Homo sapiens: one gene and its partner. The protein of the gene in region 2 purifies or fractionates together with the protein of the main gene of each other region. This does not show direct contact. Each region holds a gene or a part of one and is shown on either strand. Other genes may lie near its edges.

The links.
Region 1: the proteins of ARMC3 (region 2) and NMT2 purify together in Homo sapiens (affinity purification with mass spectrometry; one large-scale study listed by BioGRID and IntAct). This does not show direct contact.

What each region holds. Positions count from the first base shown.
Region 1 is NC_000010.11:15,130,392-15,134,205, forward strand, and holds part of NMT2 (glycylpeptide N-tetradecanoyltransferase 2), read right to left. Parts: intron 2,973-3,814; coding exon 2,854-2,972; intron 2,754-2,853; coding exon 2,662-2,753; intron 2,543-2,661; coding exon 2,426-2,542; intron 1-2,425.
Region 2 is NC_000010.11:22,926,525-22,931,102, reverse strand, and holds the start of ARMC3 (armadillo repeat-containing protein 3), read right to left. Parts: upstream 3,051-4,578; 5' UTR 2,997-3,050; intron 1-2,996. UniProt on the Homo sapiens protein: Essential for male fertility and sperm motility. During spermatogenesis, promotes the autophagic degradation of excessive ribosomes, providing energy resources for mitochondria and thus ensuring sperm flagellar motility.

The DNA of each region.
Region 1 (3,814 bases), 7.8 Mb from region 2:
GATACCCAGGAAATATCCAAGAATAAGAATGCAGGCTGGGAACACTGGCTGTCGCCTGTAATCTCAGCACTTTGGGAGGCCAAGGCAGGTGGATTGCTTGAGACCAGGAGTTCCAGACCAGCCTGGGCAACACTGAGACTCTCATCTCTACAAAAAACAAACACCAGCCAGTCATGTTGCCGCATGCATGTGGTCCCAGCTACTTGGGAGGCTGAGGTGGAAGGATCACTTGAGCCTGAGAGGCAGAGGGTGCAGTGAGCCATGATTGCATCACTGCCCTCCAGCCTGGACAACAGAGCAAGGCCCTGTCTCAAAAAAAAAAAAAAAAAAAAAAAAGAAAAGAAAGAAAAAGAAAAAAAAGAACATAAAGGCCATTCTATTTTCTTCTTTCTTTCTTTTTTTTTTTTTTTTTTTTTGAGACAGATTGTCGCACTGTCACCCAGGCTGGAGTGCAATGGCGCAATCTTGGCTCACTGTAACCTCTTACTCCTGGGTTCAAACGATTCTCCTGCGTCAGCCTCCTAAGTAGCTGGAATTACAGGTGCACGCCACCATGCCCAGCTCATTTTTGTATTTTTAGTAAAGACAGGGTTTCACCATGTTGGCTACGCTGGTCTCGCATTCCTGACCTCATGATCTACCTGCCTCGATCTCCCAAAGTGCTGGGATTATAGGCGTGAACCACCCACCGCACCTGGCCTGAAAGCCATTCTTTAACACAATATTTAACAAAAATATTCTATCACTTAGACATTTCACAAATTCAGACGGAAACACTATTCCCCATATCTCCCTGCCAAAATGATTGTAAAACGCACGGAGGCTCCAACCCTCTTGTTCTAAATACATTTTGGGACTTTGGTCCATTATACGTTTTCAGTTTAGAAAATGGATCAGCTATGGCTCTTTACGTTTCTTTCCTTTTTTTTTTTTTTCCTTTTTTGAGATGAGGTCTCGCTATGTTGACCAGGCTGGTCTCGACCTCCTGGCCTCAAGCAATCCTCCCATCTCAGCCTCCCAGTGCTAGGATTACAAGCATGAATCACTACGACCTGCCCGTCTTTAAGTTTCTAGATCTGTTTTTCCTAAATTATGGTAATAACTGAGTCATCCTGGTGCAGAATCTGATAAGATGTTGCTTTGGAGTGTGATACAAACCCCTGGGACCCCTGAGAGGGGCTTTGAGCAGACCAGAGCTGGTGCGCTCTGAACTACAGTAAACCTCCTAGATCTTCAAATCCTGTTCCTGGTTCTGTTTCCAGGTACACACTTCATTTGGCACAAAATATTCCTTGAGATCAAATGCTTTTCACAGTAAATAAGCTAACCTAATACACTGACAAGTAAAGAGACCAATTATATATGACATCTTTGACTTTCATAGCTGGATCTTTGACTTTCCGGGCTGGAGATCCAAACTAAAAGTGCAATGTATCCTATGGAGAGAAAGCTTTATCTCTCCTAAAAAATTTTTAAGTAATTTTTTTTTTTTGAGATGAAGTCTTGCTCTGTCACCCATGCTGGAGTGCAGTGGTATAATCTTGGCTCACTGCAATCTCTTCCTCCTGGGTTCAAGTGATTCTCGTGCCTCAGCCTCCCAAATAGCTAGGATTACAGGCACGTGCCACTATGCTGGCTAATTTTTGTATTTTTAGTAGAGATGGGGTTTCGCCATGTTGGCCAGGCTGGTCTCGAACTCCTGACCTCAAGTGATCTGCCAGCCTCGGCCCCGACCAAAGTCCTGGAATTACAGGTGTGAGCCACTGTGCCTGGCCAAGGCTTCGTTTTTTCTGATACATATATGTGTGAGCATGTATGAGATTGAGAGGCAGAGAGAGAAAAAGAGAAAAAGAAACCATTGTCCTTTATTTTTATTCACAGTCCGTTTTTTTTTCTTTACTACTTAATAAATTTATATTTTAAAACAGTTTTAGGTTCACAGCAAAACCAATCAGAGAGTTTCCATAAAGCCTCTGCCTCCACACATACACAACCTCCCTGATCACCGGACAGCTTGCATTCAGTCATTTTTATTTTTATTTTTATTTTTTTTGAGATGGAGTTTCGCTCATGTTGCCCAGGATGGAGTGCAGTGGCGCAATCTCGGCTCACTGCAACCTCCGCCTCCTGGGTTCAAGCAATTCTCCTGCCTCAGCCTCCTGAGTAGGTGGGATTACAGGTGCCTACCACCACGCCCAACTAATTTTGTATTTTTAGTAGAGATGGGGTTTCACCCATGTTGACCAGGCTGGTCTTAAACTCCTGAGCTCAGGTGATCTATCTGCCTCAGCCTCCCAAAGTGCTGGGATTAGAGGTGTGAGCCACTGCGCTTGGCCTGCATTCAGTAACTTTTAAAGGCCTAATCTAATTGTAATTCTTAGAAAATAAACATATAAAAACCGCATGGACGAGCTTAAACATGTACCTGTCATAAATCCGAATGTTTGCTGGGATGGCACTTATGAACCCGACCAGTTTTTTATTTGAAGACACTCTGACCCCACAGTGCCACTGCAGGAGCCAGCCTGGTGGACGCAGAGCCCTGAGGTCACGGTAGACAAGAAAACAGGCACCAGTTATTGTCCAAGAACACAGGAACAGACGCAGGAGTCCCCAAGTCAGCAGCGCCTATCCACGACATCTGTGATCGATGAGACTTACCACAACAGGAACTCGGGTGAATAGTCAAATCGGAACATATTGTCATCATCTTCTACGTAATTCTCATTTAACAACGTGTATAACTCCTTGAGCTATAAGATAAAACAAGTGTCCTATCCATGGTGCTCAGAATCAACTTAGAAGCAATGTGTGAATGCAGGAGTTGAATTTAAGAGGTTTTTACTCACTCACCACTTCGGCATCACTCAAGTCTAAAGTGTCCCACATAAAACCCTGTGGCAAAGAATACGGTTCTTGGCGTACGTTGTCTTTATCTGGTTCAATTGCACCATGAGATGTTATGACTTCATCTGAACAGGGAGAGAAAGAGAAAAAAGAAAGGCAAAAAGCGAGAATATTAAATGACAAAGTATTCTAACCATCCAAAGTGGTCAGTGACATAAGCAAAATCTGACTTAGGGCCCTCGGGTTTCAGATAATCTTTAAAAAGATGCTGTTATATCAAGCGCCTCTGGACTGAAACAGGAAAGCTAGGCAGTGGTGTGAAATCATTGCTGTTTCACCAATTATTTTTCTTTTCTTTTTTCTTTTGAGACGGGGTCTCACTCTGTCGCCAAGGCTGGAGTGCAGTGGTGCAATCATGGCTCACTGAAGCCTTCAACTCCTGGGCTCAAGCGATCCTCTCTCCTCAGCCTCCCAGGTAGCTGGGACTAGAGTTGTACAACACAGTGCCCGGCTAATTGTAAATTTTTTTTGTAGAGACGGAGTCTCATTATGTTGCCCAAGCTGATCTCAAACTCCTGGGTTCAAGTGATCCTCCCACCTCAGCCTCCCAAAGTGCTGGGATTGTAGGTGTGAGCCACCACAGCTGGCCTATTTTGCCAATTAAATGAAAGGAGAAATCCTTTGTCATCCAGTGACAAAGATGACATTACAAAACAACAGTGATTCCGAGTCTCAAGGCCTACAATGCAGCCTTATCTTACACACTGTCATAAGCAATGTAGGTTTCATTCAACAGCCTTGGGAGGTGTGTTCTTTTTACTGCATTTCCACAAACTGGGAGAGGAAAGGGCTGCGGTGACCTCTGCCCCTCCCAGCAAAACCTAAAAATAATTTCAAGGCTGGTTACTTCTCCCCATCTAAACTGCTAGCAGCGTAGTTCAGGCCATCACAATTTCTAGTGATTTCC
Region 2 (4,578 bases):
ACAAAAATTAGCCGGGTGTGGTGGCACGTGCCTTGTAGTCCCAGCTACTCAGGAGGCTGAGGCACAAGAATCACTTGAACCCGGGAGGCGGAGGCTGCAGTGAGCCGAGATCGCACCACTGCATTCCAGCCTGGGCAACAGAGTGAGACTGTCTCAAAAAAAAAAAAGAAACTTTTCAAGATGTTAATGTCTATTAGAATAACCCAGGAAATCTATCTAGTTTTCTTCAGTGAGAGTTTGTGGAATTATGTTTGACATCAGGGCCATCTTAAACGGTATATCGTAGGAGCAATCTTAAACGGTATATCATAGCCTTAAGGAAATTACCATAGTCTCAGTAGAAATCCTAGGAAGTAGAAAATCCTTGGGGAGAATCTACAGTGTCAGGGTTAGCTCAAATTGCATGTCAAGGGTCAAAAGCAACTCCTAGCATTAGAGACACTGACCAGAATTTATCACATACATTAAAAAGCCACGTCTTCATAGAAACTCCTAGATACTTCTGAAAGGCATTTATTCTAGGTCTCTAACTTCAGACCACACTACTTTTAAGACTTTGGAGGGCCTGGGCAAGCTTATTCACACAATAGCCAATATATTAAAATGTTAAAATGTGCCTGCATCGCCCATTAAATGTCATTTGCATCATAAAAACTTTTGAAATTTGTATTTGAAATTACTCAGCAATCAGTACATACACCTGGAAATTCTTGTAAAATGAGAAAATTGTTTTCAAATGTAATAAAAATTTATATTAATAAAACATTTAATTAACACTAATTTTTCAGTTCTCTTTTCATATTTTAGAGCCAATATAAGCATTTTTTTCAAATCTCAAACATCTTCCTTAGGTGCTTGAAAAGTGAACAGGCCCTAGACCTTGTGCCTATAATATTTCAGGCAGAGAGGCAGAAACTATTCTGGGCAAATGAGAATCTATCCTACAATTAATCTCTAGGAAAAAAAAAAGAGAGAGTTTATAGCACTCTATAACCAATTCCAAGACAGAGCAGCCTTTGATTTATAAAATAATTGCTTATGAATAATATTCAGGAAGCAATTTAATTACACCTGCATAAAGTTGTTTTAAATCATCTGATTTTCACTTAGGAACTAATTTTTCCTACTTCAGGATAGTGTTTTTGAGCAATTGCATAGTGCAGAGGTTAGAAGAGCTTACACAGACAGTATTGCAATGATAGAGTGTCTCCTAAGCTAAAGAATGAAGTTAAAAGCCTATGTGTTTTATCATGGCCCGGCGTGGTGGCTCACTCCTGTAATCCCAGCACTTTGGGAGGCTGAGGCGGGTGGATCACCTGAGGTCAGGAGCTCAAGACCAGCCTGGACAACATGGCAAAACTCTGTCTCTACTAAAAATACAAAAATTAGCCTGGAGTGGCGGTGGCATGTGCCTGCATTCCCAGCTACTGGGGAGGCTGAGGCAGGAGAATTGCTTGAGGCCGGGAGGCGGAGGTTGCAATAAGCTGAGATCACCCCATTGCACTCCAGCCTGGGTGACAGAGCGAGACTCTGTCTCCTCCCCCAAAAAAAGCCTATGTGTTTTATCACCATATTGGGTATGATAGTTAATGGAGGAGAGACTGAACAGCTGACATAGGTCGGTGGCAATGAGCTATGGAGATGATCCTTACAAGGGTAATACATTTCACTGTGGAGAATTTGGAAAACAAGGGCACAACGAATAAAATAAAAATCACCCAAAGATAAGCTCAGAGAGATCAATACTATTTCTTTTCTTTTCCTTTCCTTTCCTTTCCTTTCCTTTCTTTTTCTTTTTCTTTCTCTTTCTCTCTCTCTTTCTCTCTCTCTCTCTCCCTCTCTCTCTCTCTTCTCTTTTTTTCTTTTTCTTTTTCTTTTTTGAGACAGAGTCTCACTCTGTTGCCCAGGCTGGAGAGTGGCCTGATCTTGGCTCATTGCAACCTCCACCTCCCAGGTTTAAGAGATTCTCCTGCCTCAGCCTCCTGAGTAGCTGGGATTACAGGTACCCGCCACCACGCTCGGCTAATTTTTGTATTTTCAGTAGAGACAGGTTTCCCCACATTGACCAGGTTGGTCTCGAACTCCTGACTTCAGGCGATCCACCCGCCTCAGCCTCCCAAAGTGCTGGGGTTGTAGGCGTGAGCCACCGTACCTGGCTTTGTGTGTTTTTCTAAAGTGATTTTAACATCCTGCCTCAACTTCTATCCCCTACTTTCACCTTCCCTTCCTGGGTTCATATTCCTACTAAATTCTTATATTAACAAATAAATTCATGAAGTCTCAGTTTCCCTTCATTGCTTTAATAATCTCCAGTGGATTAGCATAACATGCCATTACAAATATTTTAAAATCCCTTAGCTATCTAGCCAGTCTCTGATTGTTGAAATTTGTTTCTAATTTTCTGGAAATATGGACAGGGCTGAAAGAACGTCCTTGGACATAAAATTTTCATCCATTATCCCCAACTATTTCTTTAGGATAAATCTCTAGCAGTAAATTAACTGGGTGAAAACTTCAGGGCATTGGATATGCAAACAACTCTGCTCTAAAAATGCATCTTCTTGACTACTGGAGCCATTTTTTTTTTCACGAGTTGATTGGTCCTTTGTATTTGTTCTTCGTGAACGTTCAGCCTATGATTTTAAATATTTTCTAATGAGTTCTGCTTTGAGAAGATTTAAAGAGGAGGAGGGCTCAAGAAATCGAGGCCACTTCTGAGTTGCTCACAGTCAAGTAACGGAATCTGACTTGATCTCACCTCAGATCCCCTCTCGGGCCTCAGTTTTGTCACCTGTTGAATGGGAGGTGGCGGGATGCTTACGAAACCCACCCCAAGCCCCGTCTAACCCTGCGGGCGCGAGGCAGAAACTAACAACGCCCAGCAAGGTGTTGCCTCACTGACCCAAGCAGTCTGCGCCCACGTGGCACCTTCTCCTTTCCCAGGTTTTCCTCAGGCCTCTGCCTTGGGCCTCCCCACCCCACGGGGTTACCTTTACCTGCCGGGAGATCCCGCCGAGTAGCTAGCTGCTCCGCAAACCCAGCAGACGAACCCCCAGTCCCTTGTTGTGCCTCGTTGCTAGGCGACGCCACGCCGCGCCGCGCCTGCGCCCTGGGAACGCTCGGGGCTGCTAGGGCGCCCATTGTCCCGCCGAGGGCAGCGGCCAGTGCGGGAGGAGCCAAGTGCGTCCGCGATTACCTGAATCCAGTGCTTTAGGGGAGAATGGAAACTGGGGGTGGAAGCTGTAAATCAAGAGGCAGTTCAGCCTCAGTTTCTGGCCCAAGGACTGGCTGTGGGTTCAAATACGCAAATACTATTGCATTCTTCCAAATAGAGGCGTCAGCCGGAATCTCTATGCAGATGAAACCCACATCAGCCACCTCCTGCCCAGGCTCCGTTAAGCTGCAGACCTGCACTGCCACATCTCTTTGCACTAGGATGTCCAATCCGTTTCCACAGAACTTCTCATGGCCCTTCAAAGCCCCGTTCTCTTCCTCTTTCTTTCCTCTTCCTGCCATTCTTCCAATTGCCTAGACTCAGAAGGAGCTTCAATTTCCCTTCTTCCTCCCATGCCCCCCAACCACAGTCATCACTTCAGCCACTTCTTGGCGGCTTACATTTTGTTTCCTGCTTGTTCCCTTTCTCATATCCTTATTGTCACTTCAATCCAGCTCGTCATTTTTTGGCCTTCTGGCTGAGAAATTCAGTTGCTCTCTGCTTACAGTTCTTTCTACGTATCACAGGCAAATCGGCCATCCAGAAATCATCGTTCCAGTCTTGTCACTTCCCTACTCAAATGTCAGCGGCTTCCTAAGATAAATTTTCAACACATTGGCCTGGAATTTAAGACCGTCTGCTCCATCTCTACTCCATCTGTGCAACCACATTTTCAACCGATCTCCACCATCCAAGCTCCAGCCAAACTTACTGTTCCCGAAATTTTCCACACTTTTCTCTAGATTTTCTTGCTTATCTGTTCATCACTTCATTTTTCAACAAATATTTATAAAGTAGCTTCTATTTCCCAGGTCATGTGCAATACCTGAAATATTCTCTCATTTCCACTTAATTAAGCCCAGCTCAAATGCCATCTTCATAAAATATTTTTTGATTGCCTTTAGCAAAAAGTCTCTCCCTCTCCTCTTAGACTTTGCAAATTCCGTCTCCTACCGGCCCCTGTTGGTCTCCCAGTCCTAAGAATGATAGATGCTTCTTATAATTGCTACTTTTATATATCTTATGTTCTCTTCTCACCATTTAAATTGCCTGATAAACAGCTTTATAACAATTATTTGTATTCAGTTTTCCATGGTCAAATATCCGGTGTGACTTCTGTATAGAAAAGATCTTAAGTAATGGTCATGAAAGTAGGAAAAGGATTAAGACCAAGTAGCATCAAGGAAACTAAGGAGGGAGTTTCAAGAATATAAGCGTCATCAAGTGTTATATGATTGGACCTTGAATAATATACACCTGTATTTTCAGCCTCTCCCTGTCTTCCACGTTTTTTCCTGTTGGTATATAATTATGTTGAAGCCCCTCCCATGCCTCATCTAAAAAGCAAAAACAAATAAAATCCC